Linked DNA regions of Homo sapiens: region 1 is linked to region 2. A link means that fine-mapping ties the variant in region 2 to the expression of a gene that starts in the linked region. Tissue or cell type: whole blood. Region 2 holds a variant in brackets; the other region holds the start of a gene. All regions are shown on one strand. Distances are between the middles of the regions.

Evidence for each region.
Region 1: CACNB2-AS1 starts here. The variant in region 2 is fine-mapped to the expression of CACNB2-AS1 in whole blood (INTERVAL, PIP 0.93).

The regions. Positions count from the first base shown.
Region 1 is chr10:18,535,352-18,550,996 of GRCh38, forward strand. CACNB2-AS1 (CACNB2 antisense RNA 1) reads right to left here and starts at 3,925. Exons shown (of 3, transcript XR_007062076.1): 1 at 3,843-3,925. It overlaps CACNB2 (calcium voltage-gated channel auxiliary subunit beta 2), which reads left to right. Exons shown (of 14, transcript NM_201596.3): 12 at 750-845; 13 at 2,829-3,014; 14 at 3,879-8,206. The coding sequence ends at 4,373. It overlaps NSUN6 (NOP2/Sun RNA methyltransferase 6), which reads right to left. Exons shown (of 11, transcript NM_182543.5): 10 at 12,761-12,886; 11 at 10,210-10,794. The coding sequence ends at 10,582.
Region 2 is chr10:18,505,719-18,521,363 of GRCh38, forward strand. It overlaps CACNB2 (calcium voltage-gated channel auxiliary subunit beta 2), which reads left to right. Exons shown (of 14, transcript NM_201596.3): 6 at 753-829; 7 at 8,518-8,651; 8 at 12,618-12,698; 9 at 13,192-13,250. It overlaps CACNB2-AS1 (CACNB2 antisense RNA 1), which reads right to left. Exons shown (of 3, transcript XR_007062076.1): 2 at 8,684-13,112; 3 at 6,898-7,942. Among named protein-coding and RNA genes, the nearest start is that of CACNB2-AS1, 26 kb to the right of the region's middle. The variant T/A (reference allele first, on the strand shown) is at 8,051.

The sequences.
Region 1 (15,645 bases), 30 kb after region 2:
CGTATTTCAACCAAAACATGACATTGCAGCAGGTTGACTGTAGAAGCAAACAGGAGACTGCAATTGTCTTCTATGAAGCCAGCCAGCCAGCCATTAGAGAGATGTGTAAAAATGTAGCTATTTTTATTAAAAAAAATTCGGCCGGGCGCAGTGGCTCATACCTGTAATCCCAGCACTCTACTAGGCTGAGGTGGGAGGATCATGAGGTCAGGAGATCGAGACCATCCTGGCTAACACAGTGAAACCCCGTCTCTACTAAAAATACAAAAAAATTAGCCGGGCGTGGTGGCGGGTGCCTGTAGTCCTAGCTACTTGGGAGGCTGAGGCAGGAGAATGGTGTGAACCTGGGAGGTGGAGCTTGCAGTGAGCCGAGATCGCACCACTGCACTCCAGCCTGGGCAACAGAGCGAGACTACATCTCAAAAATATATATATATATATTTTAACATGTATCAGATTTATTGTGAATTTTTAAATAAATGTTTTAATAGTTTTCCATTTTAGCTTCTTTAAAGAGGTTGTGAGATAAAATGTTTGAGAGCTGCTAGCATAGAAAAAATGTGAGTGCTTAAAGCTTGCAACTGTGATTTATGTTAACATGTTAATTTTGCAGATAATCTTATAGCTCCATCTATTATAAGCCCCTTGTGCTGTATATAAAAAGGCCCCAGAGAAAGGAGTCAATAATGTACCTTGTACTTTACCTGGATGTAGTTATTACTCTGTTAAAAACTCATTATCTTTTACAGGTTTTACAAAGGTTAATAAAATCTCGAGGGAAATCTCAAGCTAAACACCTCAACGTCCAGATGGTAGCAGCTGATAAACTGGCTCAGTGTCCTCCAGTAAGTTATCTCTATATACAGCATAATCCAGTTACAGAGATCAGACCTTTTTTTTTTTTTTTTTTTTTTTTTTTTTTGGGGGACAAGGTCTTGCTCTGTTGCCCATGTTGGGAGTGCAGTGGTATGGTCTTAGCTCACTGCAGCCCTGAACTCCCGGGCTCAAGTGATCCTATTGCTTCAGCCTTCCAAGCAGCTGAGACTATAGGTGCATGCCACCATGATCGGCTAACTTTTTTTTTTCCCCCTGTAGAGACGGGGTCTTGCTATGTTGCCCAGGCTGGTCTAGAACTCCTGGCCTGAAGTGATCCTCCTGCCTTGGTCTTCCAAAGTGCTAGGATTACAAGCATGAGCTGCCATGCCTGGCCAGAACTGGCATTATATTTTGAAAAAAACAGTCAAACACCTGTCAGGGAAGAGAATCCTCATCACTTACAGTGGTATTCATTCCAAAGTAAACTGTCCTCCCTCCTTCCATGATCATGTGTTTTGAGCACAAGTAATCCAAACGATGATCATAGCTTACCAAAAGCTTCCGTACATCCTGCAGTAACTTCACTTTGTTAATATCCAACACAAGATCCTGGTTCCGAAAATTTGGCTTGTATGATGAGTCTATTTGGAGTTGGTATATTATTCATTTCTGATCATAGGGATCAAGTTGTCTGCTCTTAATAACTGTCTGAGACATTTATTTTCACATGGTCTCAAATCAATTTCTAAGTAATAAGTTACCTAGATTCTCACTTGTCGTCTATGCTTTACATGCAATGCCTTGAGGTATTAGAGCTTTCCTAGGTTTAGTTTTGGAGGCAGGGTCTTGCTTTGTTGCCCAGGCAGGAGTGCAGTGGTGGTGTCTCAGCTCACTATTGCAACCTCTGCCTCCCGGGCTCAAGTAATCCTCCCACCTCGGCCCTCCAAGTAGCTAGGACTACAGGCAAACGCCACCATGCCCTGCTAATTTTTGTATTCTTAGTAGAGACGGGGCTTTGCCATGTTGCCCAGGCTGGTCTCAAACTCCCGACCTCAAGTGATCCATCCACCTTGGCCTCCCAAAGTGCTGGGATTACAGGCATGAGCCACTGCACCAGGCTTTTTTTTCTTTTTAAGCATAGCCATTTCAGGGTCTATAAATATTTGATTGCTTAATATATGTTAAAATTTATAATAAACACTAAAAAATCTTTTGAAAAGTGGCATTATTTTCTTCTCTACTGAACTACTGTGAAGTTTGGACAATGTCAAAATTTCACATCCTAATCTTACCTTATTAATTTCTAAATTCAGATTTCATAATCTTGGGCCGGGCATGGTGGCTCATACCTGTAATCCCAGCACTTTGGGAGGCCGAGGCGGGTGAATCACTTGAGGCCAGGAGTTCAACACCAGCCTGGCCAACATGGCAAAACCCCATCTCTACTAAAAATACAAAAATTAGCAGGGCTTGGTGGTAGGCACCTGTAACCCCAGCTACTTGAGAAGCTGAGGCAGGAAAATCACTTGAACCTGGGAGGCCAAGGTTGCACTGAACCAAGATCAGGCCACTGCACTCCAGCCTGGGTAACAGAGTAAGACTCTGTCTCAAAAAAAGAAAAAGAAAAAAGATATCACAATCTTTATGTCAAGAACAGGCTTCTTCCTATTCTATTCTATTCTGTTCAAATATATATACATCTCTTTTCTACCATAGTATCTATGCCTTTTTCATTGCTGATTGATAGACAACTTTTCTGGGTTGCCATGTCCTTAACAACTGTTACCTTTCTGGCCATTATTTATTAGTTAAGCATTCAGTGCCCTCAACAATGATTTGAGGTAGTCAGACACTTCCTAACTAAATAAAAAGGGAGATAGTAGCAGCACTTATAGAAGCAGGAGCAAGTACAAAGGGGTGCAGCTCATGAGCCCCTTCCTCCTCTTATGGAGGTGGGAAGGGGGTGAAAACTGGGCTGGCATCAATGTGGTCTGGAATGTCTGCCTCTGCAGGAGCTGTTCGATGTGATCTTGGATGAGAACCAGCTTGAGGATGCCTGTGAGCACCTTGCCGACTATCTGGAGGCCTACTGGAAGGCCACCCATCCTCCCAGCAGTAGCCTCCCCAACCCTCTCCTTAGCCGTACATTAGCCACTTCAAGTCTGCCTCTTAGCCCCACCCTAGCCTCTAATTCACAGGTAAGGGGAGTTTTTATATATATCTATATATACAATCTTCATAGAAAAAAGGTTGCCTATGGTGACACCTCTAGGATCCAAGCCCAGTAGCCTGCTTGGGGCTTGTTCTAGTATATTAACTCAAAGCAAGTCCAGCATGAGCTGTGTATGTACCTGTAAGAAAAGCACCATCAACAGAATATATTGGGAACATACACAGACTACCGAAACTTTCTAAACAGTAGCATAGACTGTGGAAGTGGATCACCTAGATTCAAATCCTGGCTGCACCTCTTACCACTTGTGGGGTGGATAACCTGGGGCAAATTTCTTAACTGTTCTTACCTCAGGAATAATAATGGCAACCTGTCCAAGAGGCTGCTGGAATTAATAATCTCAAGAGATGATCTTATAGGGCTGTTGTATTAATGAGTTATTATATACAAAGGGTCTACAGAACAGTGCCTGTCCCATACTGTATCACTGTATCAGGTAAGCATTTGCTATTTTTAATATTCTCACATACAGTCAAGCAGAGGTAGTTAAGTTTACACCGCTGTATAGAAAAATCTCAGGGACCTGCATCTGTATTTGAGCCACAGGAGAATAAATAAAAGAACATTTTCCCTGCTGCTGCTTTTTTTTTTTTAAAGGAAAAAGTTACCATGGGCACTGTTCTAGGCACTTACAAAAGTCCAATTTAATATAGTATAGTATAAAGCCTTATAAATGCCACTGGATGTTACCAAAGGGATGAAGCTAGGTTAGACTTCATTTCAGCTTTTCGGATGCTTAAAAAGGACTCTGCTTGAATGCACTTGCTCTGGGACATGTTCTTTACACACTGACCTTGGTTAACGCCTGGTGTGCTCCTTTCGCTGCCAGGGTTCTCAAGGTGATCAGAGGACTGATCGCTCCGCTCCTATCCGTTCTGCTTCCCAAGCTGAAGAAGAACCTAGTGTGGAACCAGTCAAGAAATCCCAGCACCGCTCTTCCTCCTCAGCCCCACACCACAACCATCGCAGTGGGACAAGTCGCGGCCTCTCCAGGCAAGAGACATTTGACTCGGAAACCCAGGAGAGTCGAGACTCTGCCTACGTAGAGCCAAAGGAAGATTATTCCCATGACCACGTGGACCACTATGCCTCACACCGTGACCACAACCACAGAGACGAGACCCACGGGAGCAGTGACCACAGACACAGGGAGTCCCGGCACCGTTCCCGGGACGTGGATCGAGAGCAGGACCACAACGAGTGCAACAAGCAGCGCAGCCGTCATAAATCCAAGGATCGCTACTGTGAAAAGGATGGAGAAGTGATATCAAAAAAACGGAATGAGGCTGGGGAGTGGAACAGGGATGTTTACATCCGCCAATGAGTTTTGCCCGTTTGTGTTTTTTTTTTTTTTTTTTTGAAGTCTTGTATAACTAACAGCATCCCCAAAACAAAGTCTTTGGGGTCTACACTGCAATCATATGTGATCTGTCTTGTAATATTTTGTATTATTGCTGTTGCTTGAATAGCAATAGCATGGATAGAGTATTGAGATACTTTTTCTTTTGTAAGTGCTACATAAATTGGCCTGGTATGGCTGCAGTCCTCCGGTTGCATACTGGACTCTTCAAAAACTGTTTTGGGTAGCTGCCACTTGAACAAAATCTGTTGCCACCCAGGTGATGTTAGTGTTTTAAGAAATGTAGTTGATGTATCCAACAAGCCAGAATCAGCACAGATAAAAAGTGGAATTTCTTGTTTCTCCAGATTTTTAATACGTTAATACGCAGGCATCTGATTTGCATATTCATTCATGGACCACTGTTTCTTGCTTGTACCTCTGGCTGACTAAATTTGGGGACAGATTCAGTCTTGCCTTACACAAAGGGGATCATAAAGTTAGAATCTATTTTCTATGTACTAGTACTGTGTACTGTATAGACAGTTTGTAAATGTTATTTCTGCAAACAAACACCTTCTTATTATATATATAATATATATATATATCAGTTTGATCACACTATTTTAGAGTCTTAATGCCAAGTCAGCAGATTTGCTTTATGAATTACAGGGACTAGAAATGCCCACATTCAGGAAATTTGTAATAACATTGTCTAGACACCTATCCTCATTCTAGTAGAAAGTGTGTACATACTGTAAATATGTGTGATTGCTTGACTTGAAAAGGTTTGAATTCTGAATGTTATACCATCCTTGTAAGTAAGTTTGTAATTTCCACCATAAATTATGGTAAATATAAAACTCCAGAGGTTGTTCTACTCCATACAGTTCACACTGATTGTGACACATTCTTAGTAGCTAGTGTCTGTTCTAGTCACTGCACTGGAGTCTACGAGCCGGAACTCGCTATATGCACGTGTGTGTGTCCGTATGTAAGAAAGTGTGCACCGAGTGACTGAATGGTTGAGATGAATTGGAATGCTGAAGACTAACGAAGAAACTAGAGACTGATATCGAGCATTCTGCCCACCTCGCTCTGTATTTAATTAATTGTGCTATATGTTGCTTTAACAACCCATTGAGCAGTCAGGGAATGTGAGTAAGCTTGCTGCCAAAGGTAACTAGGAAAGCATTCATCTGCTGCCTCCTTGTTTTTGCTCCTAGAGAGTGAAAATACAGGCAATTTTACTGTGAGTGTTTCACTGGAAATGTACAATCTTTGTGTGTTAGAGTATTTGTTTTAGTAAGAAATGTTTACACAGCTTGTGGAATTATTTCGTGGGAAAATAAATTTTTATAACTTCTCCCACTTCAATTTCTAACCTTGCCTATTGTTCCTGTTGTTTGTTTACCTCCCAGTTACCTACCATTCCTCCCCACCACCGACTCCAGCAGGTTCACTGTCTGTCAGAACCCAGAAGTGCTTCTTATAACCAAAGTTTCTGTTCTTCAGAAGAAATCAGGGCAAAATGGGGTGACTTGAAGTGAATAAAATGTTAAGAATATTATCCTACATAAGACATGTACACAGAAGGGGAACCTTGAAGACATTATCTCCATGCCTCAATTACACTGCTGTAAGAAGCTTACAATGTCATCATGTTTAAGGCTAAGACCTTTTCCGTGTCTCAAGTGTATATTTTGTCCAGTTATAACTGGATGGTAAGACAGTATTAAGAGTGCAAGTACCTGGCACTTGAAGTTTGTCCCAGGAAAATGCCTGTGTATAATTACCTAACTTCAGATCTGCACATTAACTTATTTAACAAAATAAATCAGCCGGGCGCAGTGGCTCATGCCTGTAATCCCAGCAATTTGGGAGGCTGAGGAGGGTGGATCACCTGAGGTCAGGAGTTCAAGACCAGCCTGGCCAACGTGGCGAAACCCCGTCTCTACTAAAAAGATAAAAAATTAGCCAGGTGTGGTGGTGCACACCTGTAATCCCAGCTACTTGGGAGGCTGAGGCAGGAGAATTGCTTGAACCCAGGAGGTGGAGCCTGCAGTAAGCCAAGATCACACCACTGTACTCCAGCCTGGGTGACAGAGTGAGACTCCATCTCCAAAAAAGAAAAAAAAACAAAAAACAAAAAAAACTATCCAGCAAAATTATAAAATCTACTTTGTTTTGCTTCCTTGATTATTCCAAGTTCTTACCAAATATTCTTAGCCTTTTATAAGTAAAACTGTTTTACATTTAACTCCTTATTTCCCTTACCCCCAAGAAAACGCAATATTAAAAATGATTAAGCTGGGGTGGTAGAGTATACCTGTAGACCCAGCTACTTGGGAGGCTGAGATAGGAGGATCCCTTGAGCCCAGGAGGTGGAGGCTGCAGTGAACCGTGACTGTACCAATGCACTCCAGCCTGGTGACAACCTGGTGTTTAAAAAAAGAAAATAAAAATTAGTTACATATATAATGTTTTATCAGCTTATATATGAAAAAATTTCCCTCAGTTCGTTAATTAGCCCTACACTGTTTACATAAATTTATTTACTGAGTATAAAATCAGTAGTCATAATAAACTTGACAATTCTTACATTGGTAGGAAACCATATTCTAATTAAAATTGAATTTATAAAATATTTCTGATAAAACTTTTGTCATGGTAAGAGATTCACAATTATTAGTTCAATCCTTTATTATTTCATCCCAATTAATGATTTTAGAATATTTAAATTCTTGAAACATAGCTAGTATTTATCTTACTTGCTGCTATCATTAATCCCTTTCAAAAAGTAGTGGTGAGAGTTTCCATCTTTTTTATTTTGTATCTAGATTCTTAGCTTGCACTTTACTGTAGAACATATTAGTGCAAATCAGAATATTCCTCAAAGAACTAGCTTGAAGGATTTGACATAAGAGCCGCTATATGTGAAAAACTGTATAGTGGACATATGTGTAAACTGTGTAGTAAATCTGTAAATGAGGAAATAATCTCAAGGGCAATGGGATATTTACTGACCTGCGGAATGTAAAGTTACAGTCTTTTCACACAACAAAGGCTTAACCTTAACCTACTCAGTTGTAGAGCCATTTTTGTAGTCAACCTAGAAAATGCTGGAAATGTATTTAATAGTTTTTTTTTTTTTTTTTTTTGGTCATATCCATTTCAGTCTTTCCTATGCTCTTTCTCTACTGCTCATTTAAGTTACTGTTACAAAAAGGTGCTGCTAAATGTAGGATGTCTTAGTCATGTTGTACTTTGGGACAATGCCACATTTTTAACATGGTCTGCTATGCATTCCTGTTAAACATTCACTGTCAGCTACACTGAACTGTCTAACAAACCTGGTTTAAAGTAATTCATATAAAACAAATAAAGAGCTGGCTTCTGCACTGTTTATTAGTAGTAGTATTAATTGCCATGTTAGAAATGATTCATGTAGTTGAGACTATATTAAATATTCAACACTTCCCAGCTGCAGGGCATCTTTCTTGGGGCAATGCTAAATACTTTATGTTCCTTTAGTAATCTTCCTATTATGTCTGATTAAAAAAAAAGATACCTCCACGTAGATAAAATATTTTATTCAACGTGAGCTCTAGCAGAATAATCTGGGTCAGTTATGAGTTCTGGATCAAGAGTTTAATTTCTGCTGCGCTGTACTTTTAACTATTTGTACTTTGCTTCATTATTTAAAACATGACACAGGGTTTTAAAGTAAATGTACTCACTGTTGAACTTAAGTACTTCTTCTGTTTCATAGAAATGTTAATATTAAATGTTAAAATATATATTAATTTTCCCTCACATTTCCCTGATTTTTTCACCTTATTGCATTTTTTTCTTATACTGCTATGTCCCATAAGTTTATGTGATTTTCCAGTTTGCTTAAGTTTTTGAAAGGAAGAAACCCACTGAAAATTAGCTCTGTTCAAGGAAAAATTCTGAATAGTATTCTTTGTCCTGTTTCCAATATGTAAATACTTTTCTTCTATTTACTGGCATTGGTTGTATTTTGATATTTGTTGGTATTAATCAAACATTTACACCAGTAAAAGTTTGTTGCTAGGCTGATTCTCTGCCATTTTCATCCCAGCTTAGCAAATAAGGATGTGCAGCAAGCATTACAGAAAATGATTTTTGTAGAGTTTCTTAAAAGACATTTAAAGTTTAAAGAGGTATGCTGAGCCCTAAAAAGATAAGTCCCACAGGAAAAGTGTTTCTCTTTAGTCAAATGACAGCTACTGGATATAAGGCAGAATGAGGGATGTAAGAGAGACACATGTTTGCTTGAAATAATTTTTCTCTCAAACAATAATCATCTATTGACTGTTTGCTCTGAAGCTGTGACAGAGAAACGGCAGGACAGGGTCTCTGCCTGGAGGATGTTTCCCAGGTGTGGGGCTGGGGCTTAAGGTGCATGGCTAGAAAATTTGAATGAGAGTGTCGTAAGTGCCAGGAGAACATTAGATGTGGGAGCCAGGGGCACAGAGAAGGGGAGCAGTGCCTATCCAACCTCAGGGAAAGGTATTCAAGAAAGCCTCCTTTAAAGAAGAGGCAATCTAAAGGTCTTACCTGATCCAAGAGACCTTGCAATCCTTATGGATACAATAAATAGTTATGAGAAATTCCTAAAGAAAACCTGTGGAGGGCGGGGCGGGGGGGCGGGCGGAAATCAAACTATTAACCAATTGTCCATTTCTTAAGCCCAAGGCCTAATAACTTTTGGGTGATTTGAATGAAAGTTAACAAAACAGTATGATGGATTTAACACCATGAGACAGCCTTAAAACTATGGCTGGGAAGTAAGTATTCTGATTGATCTAAAAAGCCAATAGGAAGGCAAAATCCTAAGGCTGTAATGTTTTTTTTAAAAGCTGGCTGGGTGCAATGGCTAACATATGTAATCCCAGTGCTTTAGAAGGCCAAGGCAGCGGGACTGCTTCAGGCCAGGAGTTCAAGACCAGCTTGGGTAACAAAGCAAGATCCCATCTCTTTAAAAAAAAAAAAAAAAAAAAATTAGCCAAGCATGGTTGCACACAACTGTGTTGTCCTAGCTACATGGGAGACTGAGGCAGGAAGATTGCTTTAGCCCAGGAGTTTGAGGTTGTAGTGAGCTATGAAATCATGCCACTGCACTCCAGCCTGGGTGGCAGAGCAAGACCTTGTCTTTAAAAAGTAAAATTAAATTGAAAAGCAGTCACTTATTTTGGCCACTACAGTGGGATGCTTGATTTTTGCAATTCGAAGGATGATCTGCTTTTTGTCTGAATTCAGACTTGATTGTGGTCTTTTTTTGTCTGGATCTATGATAGGTACGGCTGCCTTGTCTGATGTTGGGGATAGGTGAAACTGCTTACGTTCAACAGGAGAACACCAAGGCCCAGCTATAAGGGTCAGGTCAGGCCACTTCCCAGCTGCCAGAGCTGGTTTTTTCTTTCTCACCAAGCATTTTCTAATAACTGATATGTTTCAAATACATGATAAGTTATCCAAATTGTAGAATAATCTCATTTTCTAAATCTACAAAGTAAAGAAAATACTAACTTTACTTTTTCGTTTAAAATTATGAAAAACATTGAACATAGACTACCATTTAGACTACGATAGTCTTTAGACTATCACTTCACACTATCATTCAGAGGAGGTCCAGACTTCATTTGAAAGGGGGTTGACTTACTAAATAAGCAGACAGAGAGTCAGGTAAAATACTTACCTCCATTATTGGCACATAGTCAATGTTTTACTTCCCATGCCCTGAATCCTTAAGAAACTAGGAACCTAGAAACAAAAACAACTTTTCATAACCACATCAAATATTGCTAATTTATTCCTTTTGTTAGATTCACTAATTTTTAACATTAAAAATGACTTGTACACTTTACAAATTAAAACATTAGATCACAAATGAAAATATGCTCCAGACATCTATAGGCATCTGCTTTTCTTTATACTCTACTAAATACATAAAAAAAAAAAATCTTTTAAAAACAGAAAATATAATCTCATACCACCCCCTACTTCCTCTATGTCTCTGGATCCCTGGTAAAACAGCTGGCAGCCTTTTCTGTTTCCATAGCAACCACATCATCATTCAGTTGGCCTGACAACACTTTGGTTAAAAAAAAAAAAACCACAGACAGCAAATGTTTGGAATTTTCATTTCTGAGCATCCATCCCTCTCCTATGTGCTTTTGCATTTTACAAATTTTGCAATAAAAAAACCTATAGAGTCCTTATTAGCCAGACGCAACATGTCTTCTCTTCTGGCCTCTCTAAGAGAGTCCATGTCAGTGTCCGGTAATGGCACAGCCGATGGATCAAATCGCTGCAGCTGTTTCAACTGTTCACATGAGAGCCCAGCTCCCCTCATTCCTTCTCCTCCAATCTGCGGTTCCTGTTTGGAGAAAGTGGATCAATATGGATGAACATCCTGTAATTAGCAAGTATGACTGCTACAATTTAAGTTAAAAGACAAATTGGGCTGTAACGACTACATCTTCCAAAAATAGAAAAATGAGTAAATGCCTTTCATTTTGGTGGAACATACGTGCTGCTTTCCAGACAGTAAAGTAGGAAAGCAATACTATGCGTCACCTGATGAACAAATACCTATTATTACATGCTTATCAAACACTGTGACATTATCAAAGGCCTGAGCTTCCTAGTTGGAAACAAGTGGACTCAAATTGCAGCTCTACCACATTTTAGCTGTGTGACTTTAGGTAATGTTAACTAACCACATTTCCTCATCTATTAAACAAGGCTTAAGTAACGAAGGTGGTATCACACCTGGCATATAGCAGGGACTCAGTAAATGGAACATTATTATCAATAAAGCAGCAAAGGCCAGGCACAGTGGCTCACACCTATAATCCCAGCACTTAGGGAGGCCGAGGCGGGCTGATTACCTGAGGTCAGGAGTTCAAGACCAGCCTGGCCAACAAGGTGACACCCTGTCTCTACCAAAAATACAAAAATTAGCCAGGTGTGGTGGTGCATGCCTGTAATCCCAGTTACTTGGGAGGCTGAGGCATGAGAATTGCCCGGGAGACAGAGGTTGCAGAGAGCCAAGATTGTGCCTGGGCAATCCAGCCTGAGCGACAGAGTGACACTCCATCTCAAAAAACAAAAAATGAAAGAAAAGAAAAGAAAAGAGAAGGAAGGGAGTGGGGACGGGGAGGGGAAGAAGAAAAAGAAAAAGAAAAAAGAAAAAAGAAAAAAGAAAGCAACAGAAAAAATTCAGCTTTATTTAACAGTTTCCAAAACTGAAAGGTGGTCTTTGGGCATCTAAGGTACCTCTCTCTGACCCATACCAGTTGGGCGAGAAAAGTTTCTAGAAAAACAAACATAAGAAAGGAAACATAATTTAAGGCTGTATCAATTAGTTTAGAGGAATCATAAGGCATTGAATGATACTTGCAAACTACTGAAGAAGATCTATAATCCTAAGTCACCATCACAGACAATCATCTGCATGTTAATGAAGATAGGTTTTCAGACATATACTTAAGAAAACAGATCGTTTATTATCCCATGGAGGTCAGGGGAAAACTTCCCATCCCTTTTAGGTATATATTTTGAGTGTGTGTATATTTCCAAATGAATTCCGAAGTCTTCCTTTCATCTACAATGTAATTATCTTAATTTACGAGACTAGAAACCATCTCTGAATTGTCTTTATTTATGTATTCCCATTACCTAATTTCTGTATAGAAAGGTACTAAAGTTAGATGCTCAATGTATCTGAATGTATGCGAGCATTATTACAGATTTAAACTTAATCTCAAATATCCTGGACTAAAAATTGAATCAAAAATACATTTCTAATAAAGACCATAACATAAAGAGTTGTGTTAGGTAAAAGAAAGTATAGCAAAGCTTTTTAAATATTATACATTTTATATAATAAGCAATAATCCAGAAATACTTTTTTCCCTTTCAGCTGGTCTTCTGATATCCCACAGTTATTAAAGCTCATTTGAGCTTTGATGTGACATGAGAGAAAATGCTCAACATTTTCCATGTCAGAAAAATACAGGACTGGGAAGGAGAAAAAAATCTTTTTAGAAAAAAGGTGCCGAGTAACATGAATAGCTACAAGGGGAATAAACACATAACAAAAACACTCCCAAGCTCTGTGCCATTTTAACACAATGGCAGGAACAAAGATGAGAAAAAACTTTGTCAGGACATGCAAATTATGGGCAGTCTAAAGTGGATTTAATTAGATAAGCATTCTTGTTTATTACAGTGTTCACTTTGGAAGTTTTACTTATCTCTTCGTTAACACCCTGATTACCACAGTGCTTCAGTTTCTGTGATTTATCTTATTACACAGAGAAAAATGAAATTACTCCTACCTGGGGCTGAAGCTGAAGGCAAGGAAATTTTGTCAGGGCCCAGGCAACCTGTTCTTCATTTTCGGCCAGTGTTATAGTGCACGTGCTATAAACCAGCACACCCTCTGGCTTCAGCAGCTGAACCGCCTAAAGAAAACTGTGATCAGACCACACACAGCACAAGACCAGATAAACATATGAATGAATTTCAAAGCAAAAGGTATAATGTCTTTCAAATGTTTGGGATAAATAAAATGATGTTCTATGTGACAAGGATTCCTTCTGTAATTAGAGTATGCAAGAGCAACACTTGCAGCCTAGACTAGGTGCATTTCATTATCTTGGAACTGTCATACTCCAGATGGACCAAGACTTCCCCAAATATAATCATTCACCGTCATGCCTTTGGATACCATTTTTTATGCTGAAAACTCACAAATTTACATTTTTAGGCCACATCAACTTGTTAAATTCCCTACTTAAATGTTCAGTTGGCTTCTTAACATTTCTTTTTTATTCTTATTTTTTTAAATAGAGATGAAGTCTCACTGTTGCCCAGTCTTGTCTTACACTCCCGGGCTCAAGCAGTCCTCCCACCTTGGCCTCCCAAAGTGCTGGGATTGCAGGCGTGAGCCATGGGTCTGGCCCTTCTCAACATTTCTATAATACTATCAAACTTGACATGTCCCAAAATGAACTCCTACTTTCCCTCTGAAATCCACTGCAGAAGTTTTCCTATCTTTCCAGAATCTCAGGTCCCAAACCTCAGATTTTCCTTTATGCCTCTTTTTCTGACTCCCCCAAACATCACCAAGTCCTATTGGCTCTACCTTCACATTCTAGCCAGAATTTGGCCACTTCTCACCACTTCCACTATCATTGTGGTCCAAGCCTCTTTATCTTTTGCCTGGATTATTCCAACCGCCTCCTACTTCATCAACCTGCTTTATTCCCTGCCCTCCTGCAATCTAGTCTCAGTACAGCAGCCAAAGCAGTCCTTTTAAGCTTGTCTCTTCTCAGCCCCAAGCCCCTCACATGTCCTCCATGATCACTTACAGTCAAAGTCCTTACATGATCACTTAGAGTCAAAGACAAAGTCCTTACAGAGGTCTTTGAGGTCAGACATAAACAAGTCTCTTGTTGCCTCTCTGACCTCCTCCTGTACACCTCTTACTCTGGCCCATTTGACTTTGGCAACACTGGCCTCCTGCTGTTTCTGGAACACACAAGACACACTGGCACCTCAGAATCTTTGCAGCAGTTGGGAAAGCTCTCTTAATTCCCTGCACTGCTTACTCCTTATCTTTGCATGTATGTCACGTTCCCGGGCACTCTGTAGATTTGCAACTATTCCAATCCAACACTCCTATCCCCAGTTCCTTTAGCTTGCTCCATAGGGCCATTGCATTATTGCCTTCTAATATACTAAAAAACTCATTTATTTATTTCCTTTCCTAGTTAGAATGGAAACCTCGTGAATAAGGGCATGGAGTGTTTGTCCACTTTCTCAATGCTGTACCGTCAACATCTAGAATAGCGTCTTACATACAGGAGATCTATGAGTATTTGTTGAATAAATTAATCAGGAGATAAGGTATTGTGCTAAAATGGACTTGTCTGAAATACCTAAAGTTCAGCTTTTCAAGCTCCTAATTTTTAAAAATTTAAAGGAAATCTTTAAAAATAGAGTATACATACTTGTGCTTTTTAAATCAGAGTATGCTGATCAAAATTTAAACTTTGTTACTATGTGCCAGTTACTGTGTGAAACACTGTATATGAATTTTTCTCAATAAATCCTTATAACAACCACAAAGTAAGATGACTATCACCAATGAGGTATTCCTAATAGGTAGAGCTGTTATCCCTGCTACTCAGATATAGAAAACAATGTACCTAAAGTCACTTAGGTGGAAGAGCCATGGCTCAAGTCAACAAGGCTCAAGTCCACATTCTCGATTTCTCTCCATGCCAAATGGCAAACCTGCTATATTCTAGTTCTCTCTGATATACTGTCAGCTTTTCCTTCTCATTGAGATCATTCATCTACTCCTAGTAGCCTTTTAAAATACCATTTTTGCTGTGACCTAATAAGAACAGAAATCCAAGTCCTTTACAGAAGTATCCTAATTTTATTCTCAAGTCAAAGTGGGTTTCGGCTGTAACTAAAGTTTCCTTTTTGCTGCTTGCTGTTTTAATTCTGAGGATGAGTTCTTCGAAGACTTCATAGAAAAAGACGAAGTTAAATAATACACAACCAGTGCTACCTTTGTATATGAAAGGAAACACCAGGAGAGTTGAATCAGAATGTACTCAAAGGCAGCTTTAGAAACTAAATCATTATAGAACATCCATTGTTGCTCTAGCCTTGTATTTTGGAGGGCTGGGAGGAAATAATGAATTCATCTATGATCAAACACTGCCTATACACGCTGAAATCCACTGAGTCATTTTTGAAAGACTAGGAGAAATCCTCAAATGTTCTATCTGGGCTTCTGAAAGTGCTGGAGACAAGTTAAATTTGTACAGTTTTTATGGTTCTCCTATATCCTACGCTGGCCACTGTCTCTTCCTGTTTTTATCAATGAGTTTTGCTCCCTATTGGGCCTTCTTCTAAAGACGACCCCCAAAAAATCTCTTTTTTTTTTTTTTTTGAGACAATCTTACTCTGTTGCCCAGGCTGGAGTGCAGTGGCATGACTTCAGCTCACTGCAACCTTCGCCTCCCGAGTTCAAGCAATTCTCCTGCCTCAACCTCCCGAGTAGCTGGGACTACAGGCGCCCACAACCACACCCAGCTAATTTTTTGTATTTTTAGTAGAGACGGGGTTTTGCCATGTTGGCCAGGCTGGTCTCGAACTCCTGACCTCAGGTGATCAGCCCGCCTCAGCCTCCCAAAGTGCTGAG
Region 2 (15,645 bases):
TAGGCTGGTGAAAAACACAAATGCTGTTGTTCTAATATTAACTCCAATGTTTCTGAGACACTGCAGTATATCATATCAAACTTTCAAATTTGGTAGTTCGGAAATGTATGATCTTCAAATTATTCCTAAATTAACCACGTTTCATTCTCCACGTGAGTCACGCTTGAGAAGTATTCTGGGTACTATCTGATGGCTACATCATATCATATTCTGTTTAGTCATGTTTCTTCGTGTGTCCGTTAGTGGTTGGCAAGTTTTCATATGGCTCTGTTGTTCTTTGATAGATTGCTCATGAAAGCGTGAGTGCTTTCAATCTTAGTGTACTATTAATAAAATAAGCCTAAAACAGAGGAGCTGAAACCAAACAAGAAGGAAATATTAATCTTGGGTGTTAGCCTTAAGGTTCTGTGCATCGCCTCTGAGGGTCTCTAAAATAAAAAGCAAAATAAATCTGTGCTATTTCACTGTCTGTGATCTGGGCAAGTAACTTGGGGGCTGCAGAAATTACACTGGTTCTCTTCCATTCTCTCAGGTCCTTTTAAAATTAAACCTTGAATTTGAAATCAGAGACCATCATGTGGCTATTTCAAGTACTCCAGGAATCTCCACTGGGAAATATTGTTTTCCTCCTTAAATGAAAGATAAATTTAAAGTTGAATAAAACCATAATGAATTATGTTTACTGAATAATATAAATGTTTGAGGATGCGAAATAAGTGTCAGATTTAATAGAAATTTTTGCTTTACTCCAGTAAATCAGGAGGAAATTCATCATCCAGTTTGGGTGACATAGTACCTAGTTCCAGAAAATCAACACCTCCATCATCTGGTAAGTAGGTGATAAATGCTGAATAATACATACTGCATTTCATGCTTTCCCCAGCTCTATCCAGTTTTGTGAATTTACGTATACACTGAATCACTATGTTAACCCTACAGATGTTAAAAGGAATCAGAAGTGAGCATGCCCTTTTGGAGTTACAAACAATATGGGGAAATGTTTTTTTCTGGCTGGAAAAAGAAGTATGTCAAAGTGTTTACATTGCTGTAGATGATCAAAGTGATTAATGTATTTATTTATTTATTTATTTATTTTTTTGAGACAGAGTCTCACTCTATTGCCCACGCTGGAGTGCAGTGGCATGATCGCAGCTCACTGCGCCTCTGCCTCCAGGGCTCAAGTGATCCCCCCACCTCCGCTTCCCAAGTAGCTGGGACTACAGGTGCACACCACCATGCCCGGCTAATTTTTGTATTTTTTGTAGAGATGGAGTTTCACCATGTTGCCCAGGCTGGTCTCGAACTCCTGAGTTCAAGCGATCCACCTGCCTTAGGCTCCCAAAGTGCTGGGTTTACAGATGTAAGCCACTGCACCCAGCCATATTAACCTTTAATCCCTAGTTCCTGCGATGGTGCTTGTCATGGGCAGTAAATGGGTGAATACTTGCCAACAACCATAGCACAATGTGAGATATAACCTTAACATTAAACAGAAGGATAAAAACTTTAGAAAGGTAAGGAACAGAGGGTAAAGTGAAGATAGAGGATTGGCCTGTTGTGGGCTCTACCAGAAAAGTTCTGTGGAAGACACAGACAAGAAGTATAGAAAAAAGATGAAAATGTGTGTGGGAACAGTAACTACTGTTTTCTTTCCAAAGCAGTGGGTTCATCCTAATGGTTGCTGGATAAAATAAAGCACACCTACTTAAATTTGAATTTCAGATAAACAATAATTTACTAGTTTAAGTACATATTGCATGGGGCATACTTACACTAAAAATGTATGGAACATACTTATGCTAAAACATTGTTTTAAATTCAAATTTAACTGCATTTATATTTGCTAAATCTGGGAACTCTCCTATTCTGTGTAGAACATGGAATTCTATATAGACAGGAGACTAATGATTTGAATTGCAAAAAAAAGCACATGATCAGTATCTTAGTTTGCTAAGAGAATTGTTATTGGGAATCAGAGTAAGACTGTAAAGGTTGACTGCCAGGGTGTTTCAGCAAAATGATACTGTGTGTGATTTCTAGAAAGCTGGAAATGGGAAGAGATAAAAAACAGAGAGTTGTACAACTATGCAGAAATCAAAGAACTAGTCACACAGTGACTGATGTGCTTTAAGGACAGGATTTCTCTATTACTAATAATCAGCTTCATTCCTGAATGGTGGTGGCCTTTAGAGACCAATCAAGGACTTCTTAGCAAAAACTATAGGATTTTTTTTTTTTAAGAGAAGGGGTTTCACTATGTTGCCCAGGCTGTTCTTGAAACTCCTGGGTTCAAGGGATCCTCCTCCTCAGCCTCCCAAACTGTTGGGATGACAGGCATGAGCCACCATGCCCAGCCATTGGCAAACTAAGATACTGATCATGGGCTTTTTTTGCAATTCAAACCATTGTTCTGTTTATATAGAATTCCAAGTTCTACACAGAATATAGGACTTTCAAGTGAGCAAAATCTGAGCACAATAAATGAATTGCTTTAGGAAGCAAATTAATTTCAAAAACTATCTACTTATAACTTGAAGCAAGCAATTCTAAGATGCTCAAAATTAAGTAAAATAGTATGCATGAAATGAAAATGAAAGGCCCTGTAGGTATTATGTGAAACTTATACCTTCCCTTGATAATTACGGAGCCCCTGAATCCACAGAGGAAGGGAGGCCTATCCTGTTCCTTCTCAAATGTGTGAAGTTGCAGGGATTCCTATATAAACCTTACACTCTTATATATCTCAAAGATGATTTCAGTGATTTCTAGGGACTGCTACTAGGCTCTTAAAGTGGAAAAAGACTATGTCACCTTGCGATAAAGCAGCAGTTCTGCCTGCAAATGTCAGCCTCACTTCTTTCTATATACCAGAAAAATTCTTCCATTCCCTCCAGCCATATTGTAGCCCTCCAGTGGTTTTGGCAACACAGATGCTCCCCAACTTATGATAGAGTTACACTTCACTAAACCCATCATAAATAGAAAATATGGTAACTCAAAATGTACTTAACACGTGGACAGACCCAGTAAAAAGTCTGACGTCAAACCATCGTAAAGTTCAGACCTTGACTTATGATAAGGTTATGTCCTGAAAAATTTGTAATAAACTTGCACAATCTTAAGTTGAACCAGTGTATGTCAAGGACCGTCTGTATAGTGAAAGGAGGTGCTGCATTTTGAAGAACAAGTTAGTATACATGTAAAATAACATTCCATTTTGTAGGCAGATGTTTGACATTACTAAAAGTAAAGTTCCATGAAGAGTGTAATATTTAAAAAGGTGATTTAAATGTTCACCAAGGTTTTGTAGAGATACACCAACTTTCAAGTGACTTTTCTGGTGACTGAGTCACTTGGAGCTATAACCAACTACAAAATGTATAATAAGCATATTAGGACTCTGAGACAATTTTTATATCAATAGCTCAACTGATTTAAAGGAAAACTTCAGAAAGCTCGAAAGAGAAGTTCTCCCAATCCACCTCCAGGCACAACTGCTCCAACTATCAAGTGTGGATGGGTCTGTAATGATCATTTTCATCGTTTCCAAAGGTCTCATCTATTATTCTCCTCACTCATTGCCAGACCAAAGAATATAAGTATCTGCCTAAAGTATATATGCTTGGATGCTGTCAAGAACTTGGAAAATTTCCCACTTGACATCTGGGCATTGGTGTCATAGCCAGTTGCAGAATACATACATCGCACCCACACACACGTGTGTACATATGTGTCAAGCCCAAGCTCTGCTTAACTTGACCCAAACCTTTAACACCAAAACTTAAATTTCAAAAAATTGTTCTCGGTGCCATGGTCACGCCTGTAATCCCAGCACTTTGGGAGGCTGAGGCAGGAGGATCACTTGAGCCCAGGAGTTCAAGACCAGCCTGGACAATGTAAGTGAGACCCCGTTTCTAAAAAATTAGCTGGGTATGGTGGTGTGCACCTATAGTCCCAGCTACTTGGGAGGCTGAGGTAGGAGGTTCACTCGAGTCCAGGAGGTTGAGGCTGCACTGAGCCATGATTATGTCACTGCACTCCAGCCTGGGCCACAGAGGGAGACCCTGTCTCAAATAAATAAATAAACAAACAAACAGAAAAAATGTTCCCAAGGCTCTCTATCACTAATAATAATATATGCATGCTAGTGAGGAAGAATGAGACTTTTCAAATATATGAAAGCAGTTCTTTCCAAGTAAATACTAATGTTTGCTAAAGCATGGAAATATAAGTATGAAATTTAAAAAGAGTAACATTTCTCATTAAAAGGAGAACCATCTGAGTCTAATAAAATACATGTAGCTGAACAGATTTGAAAATGCTTCTTAACTGCCTTGGTAAGTTTCTTTAATATGTTTTGAAAGTGACCACATGTTTCAGAATTCTACGTATTTCAAAATGAACTCAGATGTTTTTAGACCTGAGTTAACCAAATGTCAGAACTAGTACATTATAGAAAGTTCTCAATTTGGGATATCCAGCCCTCATGTCCAGATACAGGTAAATTTCAAACCTGACTCAGGCTATGTGTGTGGAAAGCCAAACACCTGGGCAACGTTGCAGCCAAAGATGTATACGTTTCCACTCTTTCTTTGTTTTTTTTTGAGATGGAGTCTCACTGTCACCCAGGCTGGAGTGCAGTGGCACAATCTCAGCTCACTGAAGCCTCCATCTCCCAGGTTCAAGTGATTCTCCCACCTCAGCGTCCCAAGTAGCTGGGATTACAGGCACCGGCCACCACACCTGGCTAATCTTTGTATTGTTAGTAGAGACAGGATTTTACCATGTTGGCCAGGTTGGCCTCGAATTCCTGACCTCAAGTGATCCACCCACCATGGCTTCCCAAACTGCTGGGATTACAGGCATGAGCCACCATGCCCAGCCTCACTCTTATTTTAAAAAACAAAAATACAACTGATGATCACAGCAGGCTAGATTCAATGGGCAAATCACAAAATTCAACTCATGAACTTGACTGTCCAAGGGTCCTGTAAATTCTGACATCCAACTGGTTATCTTCATTTTAGGAGAGCCCTCAAAGGGTACTATCCCTTGAATGTGGTCTTTATGAGCCCAATAAAAGATGAGAAAGATAAAACCTGTGGGAATTTACCACCAGCAAGGAAACTCTTGATTTTGGTTAACATGTATTGTAGGAATAATGAATTCCTGACGCAGATTTTGTCCTTCATATCCAGGAAAGCGCTGACAACATGCTGCTTGAGTTGAGATTCAAGGAAAAACATTTCTGAAGAGTTTTCTGAGACTCTTGCCTGGCTTATGCCATTCAATAAGCCCCATAAGGAAACTTTCCTATATGAGCAAAGGATTAGCTATAGGATGGTATAAAAGTCAGCACTGGATAAAGCCCTAGGCACATTTTATGTTTTCTCTACATACCACATGTTAAACCTTTTAGCACATCAGTATGCATAGATGGGGCAAAGAGGAAGACATACTTACTATATTAGGTCTACGTAATTAGGACTGAATTAATTCCATTATTACCTTTTTTTTGATAGAAAATCATACCTCCTGCATTATGCAAGCAATAGCTGATTATTTGTAATAGTGTACAAACAATGGCAGGTATTCACTCCATCACAGGTTTCCTACCTCACCAAATGAAAAGGAATAATTAAATAAGAGAGCCTAGTTTTCAAAAGGCTGCTTCATTTAATATTCATAACAACTTCAAAACTGAAAAATAATGTAATGCCTGTCAGATGATCTTCCATCCTTTGAAAAGGTTAGAAGAAGCTGCTGTGAGCAGTTCAGCTTGTGTATCCCAGGGAATGGTAGCTGTATTGTAACACCAAGTTGTCTGTTATTTCAAACTGGTAATTTGTTCCTTCCTTCAATCTAAATGTACTGTGGTTTTTGTTAGAGAGCTAACATGTATAATATGATGCTTTCCTGCAGTGAGTAAATTTTTTTTCTTCTCCTTGACTGATTCTTAACCGTAGAATAATTTTCTAGCTAGTCCAGCTCTATGATGTCATCCTGACTCCTGACATCAAGGACATGACCCCATTGAGGATGTGAAGGGAACTGAAAGAGGGCACCCAGATTGAGAAGGGACTTCGCCTGGATGGGCAGTGTGGTATAGGGACGGTTACAGACTCATTTAGGTGGGCACTGTGGTATACGGAGGGTTATAGACTCACTTACGCAGGAGGAGTAGGTCTGAATCCTGACTGCCAAGTTTTTGCCAAGAACAAGTCCCTTAAATTTTGAGTTTTTTAATCTTAAAAATAAGAGCCTTGAAGTTGATCTTTATTTCCATCTCTGACTCTGCAGTTGATAAAATTCTGTAGCTATTTCAATTGCATGTGGAAGGATTTTGTAAAATTTGAAGTGAGATTATGCATCTTTTTTTCTTGTAACACTTTTTAAGTACTATATTTTCAGGTGGAACAATGGGAAAAGTAAATCATGTCAAGCAACAAAGCTAAACCTTTCATTTTACAGATGAGGAAACCAGTGGCATATCCTCTTGGGTCCTCGTGCCCTTCCACTCTGCCTCTTTTGTTAAACCCAGTGGCTTTGCATAAGTCACCAGAAGTCTTCCAATGTCATTTTATTAGACAGATTTCACTCGGATATCTTGGGACCCAGTGTTTTCCCATTAGTCTTCATCAGCCTAAAATCATCTTAATCCTGTCCTTCCTGGAGCCCTCCCTGAATCATTGGCCTTGTGTATGACTCCTTTGCATTGACTGGATTGAGAATTTTCCATTCTCTCTTTTTCTCAAATGTCTGTTGCAATTTTAGGGAAACTTTTCACACTGTCCTTATTTTTACACAAAATCTGCAAAAAGAAAAATCTTTTTTTGCACATTGTATTGTTGGTGCAAATGTAATTGCGGTTTCGGACCATGGATTTTAAATGATAACTAGGCCTAAATACATCTTTATTAATCAAAATAGGAAACACTACAATCAACACATTTTTGCCAAGGAGAAATAAGTGTGTTTATTCCTGTAGCATAAAACTCCATGCTTTGGGATTCGGCAAACTCTTGAAAAGCACTTTCTGCATCCTGCTGGTTGTGGAAGAATTTTCTCTGCAAAAAGTTGTCAAGATGCTTGAAGAAATGGTAGTTGGTTGGCAAGAGGTCATGTGAATATGATGGATGAGGCAAAACTTCGTAGCCCAATTCATTCAACTTTTGAAGCGCCGGTTGTGTGATGTGCAGCCAGGCGTTGTCACGGAGAAGAACTGGGCCCTTTTTGTTGACCGACGCCGGCTGCAGGTGTTGCAGTTTTCGCTGCATCTCATCGATCTGCTGAGCATACTTCTCAGATGTGATGTTTTCGCTGGGATTCAGAAAGCTATAGTGGATCACACCGGCAGCAGCCCACCAAACAGTGACCATAACCTTTTTTTTTTTTTTTTTTTTGGTGCAAGTTTGGCTTTGGAGCTTCTCAGTCCAACAGCTGAGCTGGTTGTCAGTGGTTGTCATATAAAATCCAATTTTCGTCCCACGTCACAATCCGACTGAGAAATGGTTCATTGTTGTTGCACAGAATAAGAGAAGATGCTTCCAAACAACAATTTATTTTTGCTTGGCTCATGAGGCACCTACTTATTGAGTTTTTTCACCTTTCCGATTTGCTTCAAATGTAGAAAGACCATAGAATGGTCAATGTTGAATTCTTCAGCAACTTCTCGTGTAGTTGTAAGAGAATCAGCTTTGATTATTGTTCTTGAGTAGTCGCTGTCAACTTCCAATGGTCAGCCACTATGCTCCTCATCTTCAAGTCCCTCGTCTCCTTTGCAAAGCTTCGTGAACCACCACCGCACTGTACGTTCATTAGCAGTTCCTGGGCCAAATGCATTGTTGATATTGCAAGTTGTCTCCACTGCTTTACGACCCATTTTGAACTCGAATAAGAAAGTCACTCAAATTCGCTTTTTGTCTGACATCATTTCCATAGTCTAAAATAAACATAAACAGCAAGTAATAAGTCATTAGCAAAAACGCATAAAGCGAGAAATGCGCATTAAAATGATATATAACATAACCACATTTATTTAAGAATGTAT[T/A]CCAATATCAAATGGCAAATTCCAACAGTGCAAAAACCGCAATTACTTTTGCATTCACCTATAATAAAGGTTTTCAAAGTAGTTGTTTGTTATCTCAAAGCTGGTTTAAGATATTGTAATGAAGTCAAATGTTCTGTACTGCACTTTTATACAGTTGATACAGAGAAAATCAACATTATATTTGAAACTACAGATTTAAAATGTTTCTCTGAAAATATTCAAGACGTCTAGCATGAAACTGATTCATTCAAGCAAACAGATTATAAGTGTATCTTTCAGTTTCATTAGATTTGATTACCTTGCATTCTTAATGTGCCTTACCTTTAAATTTAATTTTCTTGCGTACTGTGTTGAGCACTCATGATAGTTTTTTTTACTATGGTTAGTTTTATTTGCTTTCATTTTATTTTCTTTATAACCTATTTTTCCTCTCCTGTCCACCTGATTTTTGAATTGTCTGTATATAGCTATAGACATAGATGCTACTGGCTTAGATGCAGAAGAAAATGATATTCCAGCAAACCACCGCTCCCCTAAACCCAGTGCAAACAGTGTAACGTCACCCCACTCCAAAGAGAAAAGAATGCCCTTCTTTAAGAAGGTAACATTAACTTCCAAGCTCCCATTGTCCACCTGCTCAACTGCACTGCGTCACATTTCTAGTCCTGTTGACTGTCTGCGTCCTTTGATAAGCCAATAACGTGCATGCTCTGTTATTTGTTTCTTTTCCATGCTGCTGTAGCTAAGCAGAAGCAGAAATCGGTAAGTTTACATTGACATAAGCTGTGTTTATCCTGCCACTGGCATCATTAGCATTAATTCCCACAGTTGTATTAAATACAATCATTTCTGTCCCAAGCAAAGAACCTATCAACAGCTAATTGAGTTCATGCATTTCAAACCAACTAAATTCAGGGAGTGACCTGTTAAAACACCATTACAGTACTTATCCTTTTTGATGGAATAATATCTACCACCAAGGGAATTTGTTTCAACATTCAGGGATGTCAAACACTGACAGCTCCACATAATGCACCTAAATTGTGCATGCTTATTCTATCTCTTTCTTTTATCCAGAAATTTAACTTATGATCAAACATATTAAAGCAGTTATTAAATTCTGACTTATGATATCCAGATACATAGCTTGTACTAAAAAAAAAAGTATTCAAGTTTTAATTTAGTCAGTATTTAAACTTCTAATCCACTAGGTGCAAAATCTGCAGATGAACAAGACCAGTGGAAAACTGCAGGCTTGTTTTGGCGGTTTACTGTGAGTTTTTCCTATTGTCATATATAAATATTCTCCCGATGTTCTTGCCTTCTCCATCAGTCAGATTTTACCATCTCACCCTTTGGACAGTGCAGCCAGTGGTCATGCGTAGAGCCTTTGCCATTGGCCATCCAAGATGCTACACAGCGAGGCTCCTTGTCCCCTAAATGGAAACTATAGGGTATTCCTGAGCTCTCCTTACTTCAGACAAAGCCTTTTCCTCACCCATTTTGTAGCTTTAAAGCATTATTTTTTAAGGACCACTAACCTCCCCCCAAATTTCCCTTTTTTTCCCCTCTTTTACCCATCAGTTTCCACAGCTACCATGCTGTCTTTTAGAATCATACTAATGTCGCCAAGTCTGGCAAAACCATGGATATATTCTCACACGCAGATGTGATGTCAAATCTGTCTATCCTCTGCCCCCAAACTCTCCACATAATGAACACTTTTCCTCTGCAAACATGTATTTTGGTTTGTGGAGGAACTCAAGTCATTAATGAGGTGTCAGATACAGAACTGTAAAGTTGGCTTTTTTTGAATCAATTATGATTATTTTAATAAGGGAAAACTTCAGCACTCTGGGCAAAAATTGCAACACTTGGATTTTTGTGTTAACATAGCCTCAGCTTGATGTTCACCCACAACAGTGGGCCCATTTCTGGGGTCCGATCTTCTTGTTACAGCTAAAGCTTGCAGCCAAGTGACTAACAGTGTCTATCATTCAGAAGCTTAGAAAATCGGCATCGCTAAGACATTTGGGCCTTGACGGAGCAGGAATGTGAGCTAAAACCCTGTTTGTCAAGATAGGTTTGTGAAGTTTGCTTACCTTTAAATTCTAAAACTTTAAAAACTTTTATCACAATTTTTTCACTAAATAATTTGAGCAGGCAGGGCGCAATGGCTCACACCTGTAATCCCAGCCCTTTAGGAGGCTGAGGCAGGTGCATCACCTGTGGTCAGGAGTTTTGAGACCAGCCTGGCCAACATGGTGAAACCTCATCTCTGCTAAAAATACAAAAAATTAGCCTGGCATGGTGGCAGGCACCTGTAATCCCAGCTACTTGGGAGGCTGTGGCAGAAGAATTGCTTAAACCCGGAAGGCGGAGATTGCAGTGAGCCGAGACCATGCCACTGCACTCCGGCCTGGGCAACAGAGCTAGATAACTCTGTCTCAAAAAAAAGAAAAAAAAAATCAAGCTAAATGGGGTTAACAGGGAAGAGTAGATAAAAATGATGGCGTCATTCTTCATAGGGCACAAAGCACCAATATTCCATCAAATAAGGTAATTTCTGTAGCTACCCTATTGATTAAGAAGCTGATTGATTACCAGCAACGGGTGACCCTTTGCTAGTTGGCAGTTACAGATCGAAGGAACCAAAGACCTATCAAACACTGGGCCACTTCAGAATTAAAGTCTTGAGATAAAATTTCTTGGTAGCTGTTACTAAAATGCAGGAAATTTACATTCATAATTTCAACGGTGGAAAAGGTGTTCTTACACCGCATAGTTATCAGGACTTGGCTTCTAAACGTTTTCAGTATGATCCCAGGTGGTATAAATGAAATAGTTTAAGAAATATGCTTATGATGCCTTCGGCACTGGTATTCATTCTTCTTATGTTATTGATAATGTGGTTAACATCAATGTAGAATTCAAAAACAAAACAACAGCCTGAGATTCAATGAGAAGATCGTTTTCTATGTTTTAGGTTGCTTTTAGAGTGGTGCTTGTGTGGTACGTGTGCTGTCACTGTATTATGTTTGTCTTGTTTTTTTTTTTTCTGTTCAAAACTGTATTCTACCTTGATTGTGTCAATTAAAATTAATTCTGAATGCTAGGTGAAATTTTAGGCAGTGAAATTTGACAGCACAGTCATGGTAATATTTTTCTTCCCTCTGATTATATCGTCTGTGACTACGGGTAAAATCTCAGATGGAAGCTTTTGAATTTGAAATGCTTTTTAATTCTCCCCTGAGGCAATGTGAATTCAAATGAAGCCAGAAAAGTTTGTAATGGGCAATTTTAAGCAACAATAAAATGTTCTTGAGTGACGGGCAGATGCAAAAATGACATTCATATCTGCACATCAGTGTACTGAATTCTTAAAATCATTTACAGAACATTTTTCTGTTGGTGTGTGTGATTCTCAAGTTATATTTTTTGACACTCCTTAGCCAGAAAGATTCATATAGCAATGATTTGCTTATCGCAGTGTCTAAGGCCATATCACTCTTATGCATTTTTTTAAAAAGTCATTTTTGGGTCAATTTAGCATTTTATGCTATCAAAAGAGCCAATTTTAATATAAACCAATTTGCTGTTACCTAATTTTTGGAAAGATGTTATTTTACCATTTTATTTGAAGCAATTAACCTGAAAAGTGTTGACAGTTTTAGAAATTGCTACAAAATTTAGCTCCTCCCCTCTTATTAAAAAGAAATAATTTACTGCAGAAAGATGTCATTAGTTATCTGACAGAAAACTACTTTTGAGAATCATATTAGATATGCACATTGATAATGAACCTTTTGAGACCACAATAGCATGGTTGAATATATTATTATACATTAATCACCTTCCCTCGAAGACACATAAACCTTACCTTTGAAGTACCAAGGTATAGAAACCAAAAAATTCAATAGCATTAATCACTAAGCTGTGAGCAGGGATCATGATTACTGTTTACTAAAATAAGCATGCATGTTCATTTAAACTCTCACAATAATATAGAATTTTGACAGTAGTGAGAGTTACAATATTTTGAGATTAGGTAAAAAGTATTGGTAGTGAGAGTTATAATATTTTGAAATGAGGTTTTACACAGGTAAGACAAAAACCTAAGATGCAAAGGTAATGCAATCTTTCTTTCCTCTGTAATTAACCATGTTAGGTCTAATCACTACAACTCTTTAGAAAATTCAAATGCAGCCGAAAAGCAATATTAACTTCTAGTCAAGCCTAAAGCACCTATCTTGCATGAGGCATGTTTCTCTTTGTTCTGTCAACTAGTTTTTGTTCAAAAGCAGCATCTCTTGCTTTAGGAACGAATAGGTCTGTAGCATTTCTTGAGATGAGCAAGAAGACTGTAGACAACAGTAACTTGAAACTTCAGGAAAATGAACCCACCAATCTTTGACTGGGTTTATGTAGAAAAGAGGCAAGTGGGGAAAATAAAATGTCTGGAAAGCCAGTGCCTCATATTATGGAGTTCAGAAAGAGTACCTTATACACAAAATATTTATGTTCTACCTGCCTGTGAAACGTCTAAAAGCCTCTCCTCTCTCTGCAGACAGAGCACACTCCTCCGTATGATGTGGTACCTTCCATGCGACCAGTGGTCCTAGTGGGCCCTTCTCTGAAGGGCTACGAGGTGGGTAGCAGCCTTCCACAGGAAGCTTAACTTGCATGCTGAACTTCTTTGTGATGCTGCCTCCTACTCCCGACCCTCTCTCTGAATTTTACAGCTTAAGGAGCCAACTTTAGAGCTTAGAGAGCTCACAGCAGCAAAGCCTGTTGTTCTGCAAACTGGTATACACTGCTTCGTCCTTTTTCTGTTTTGTTTACCTGGCTGTTGCTTTGAAGATTTCTGCTAGCTGCAGTGTACTCAGTCCAGGAAATAGTGTCAAATGGAGACCGACTGAAACCACTTGCAATGTTATTTGTCACTAAAACATCATGATAAGTTCAGTTTAATTGTCATTGCATCAGAACTCAGAAGCAGAAAAATGCGGCAACCTCATATTGCCACTCTTTCCAGATGCAAAGCTCAGGTTTTCAAGCATTCCTAAGAGAAGTAAAATTGTTTTATCATCGTTAGTAATTTTTTTTGGTCATATCTTAATTTATTGCTTGCTCAATTGCAGGTCACAGATATGATGCAAAAAGCGCTGTTTGATTTTTTAAAACACAGATTTGAAGGGCGGTGAGTATTTCAGCATACTGGGTTTTGTGGATTTTGTCTTAAAGATGGCAAAACGCTGGTGGGACATGCGTGTGATTCCAAGAGAAAATGGCCCTCTGATGTCTATATGATGACAGGAAACAAGTTTCACTCAATTTAATCTGATTCAATCAATATTTATCATATTTGCTTGGTACATCTTTAACCCCTGATGTCTAGTTCCTGTACCTACATCCATAAGCTGACCTTGGGCAGGACACCACTGGCCAGTCTCACCCTCAATTCATGGTCAACTGGCCCTCTATTGCTGCCCAGGCATCGCACTAAATATCCCTCTTCCATTCACTTTTCCACTCTTCTAAAAGACTTCTGTGCCATCTCCCCCTCCTTAATCCTCTGATAACCCCTTCTCATCTCACGCTCCCCCAGTGAACTTGCTTCCGTGTCATTGAGAAAATAGAGGCAAACAGAGAACATCCAGGCATTTCTACAACCCCGCCTGTGGAGTTGCATGTTTGCCTGCATGCTCTGCTTTATCTCCAATGACTATGTTCCCAGCAAGGGCCAACCCACCATGTGGGCACTAGATCTCATTCCCCATCCCCTCTCTGCTAGAAGTATCCATACAGAGCCGTAATCATCCTTTGCTCTCTCCTCATGAGTATTTCCTGTTCTAATGGAAACTCCATCACCATGTAAAAATGTTAATTCCTATCACATTGACCTCATATTGCTCTAGGTGTCTCATTTTTTTTTCTTTTCTTTACAGGAAGATTCCTTGAAAGAATTGAGTGTACTGGCTTTCCTTCCACTTTCTTCAGCCTACCCCAGTTATGTTTTCACCCACACCACTCAGCTAAACTAGTCATGTCAAGATCACCCATGACCTTCACATTGCTAAATCCAGGGATAAATTTTCAGCCCTAATCTTACTTGACCATGAGCAGTAGTTGACATGGTGGATTATTCCATCCTCTTTGAAATACTTTGCTTGGTTTCTGGAACCACACTTTTCTGGTTTTCCTTCTATCACACTGACTGCTCCTTTGTCTCCTTTGCTGATACTTCCTCATCAACTGGAAATCTTGGACAGCCCAGGGCTAAGCTCTATGATGTCTTTTACCTACATTTCTTTAGTGATTTCATTCAGCATCAGATTTTTAAATTCCATTCCTTTGCCAGTCTTTCCTCTAAATTCTAGACCCATGTATACAATTGCCTATTCATTATCACTACTAAGATGTCTAATGGACTTTTCAAATGTAACCTCCCCCAAAACTTACTCCTCCCATGGTCTTCCCTATCTCAATTAATAGCTTCTTCGTCTTTCAGTCCCGAGACCCTTCAGCCCAGATCATTTTCCTTGACTGTTCTTTCTCTCTTATATTTCACATGCAAATGCTGTTGTCTTTATCTTCAAAATATATTCAGAATCGAAGCCCTTCTCACACATCCTCTGCCACCATTTTGGTCTGAGACATCTTCATCTCTTCCCTGGATTGGTGCAACAGCCTCCCACCTTGTCTCCTTGCTTCTGTGGTTGTTCCCTTAAAGCCTGTGCTCAGGTTAGCTGCTGCATGACCCTGTTAAGATGTGAGCTAGTGCCCACCACTCCTTTACTCAAAACCATCCAGTGACTTCTTTTTTTCCTCTGAATGGAAACCAAAGTCCTACAGTGGCCTACATGACCTCCTATGGTCTATTCTTCCACACGTCCTTACCTAGATTTTCTCTTGCTGCTCTTCCCTCGCTCATTCTCACCCTGCCGTACTTACTCCCTTGCTGTTCTTTGAGTGTTCCAGACAGATTACACAATCACCTCAGGGCTTTGGCACTTTGCAGTTCCTTCTGCTAGGAACACTTTTCCCTCAGATATTCTCCTTGGTATACGTGTGTACATGTATGCACACATACACATGCACACATTTGTTCTGTGTCTCTCCTTTCCCTCTGTTTTCTAGTGCTCTTTTATGTATTTCCAGTACTATTTTTGTTTATTGTCATTCTCCCATAATTAGACGATAAACTCCATGAGGGCAGGGTTTGAGAATGTTTTGTGAACTGTTGTATTCTCAGTGCCTGGAGCAGTACTCAACATGAGCAGTGGCCAGATGAATTTTGAATGAACGTCTGCTGCATACTCTCTGCTAGAGAAATGCGGAGATGGTGAAGCCAGTCTCTGCCTATGAACAGCTCTCATGGAAACCATAAATTGAAACCTGTAGCAGTAACACTGCATATAAGTAAAAGGGCAACTTGGTTATATGCATGCACAAGGTGCAGGTAGCATAAAGGGAGGCGTAATTAACACCAACTTCAGGACATCCACACCTGGAAGAATTTTTAAATGGTGCCTAACGTTTGACCAAATGGATTACAGGGAAGAGAAGGGTATGTTCAGCAGATGGTATATAGT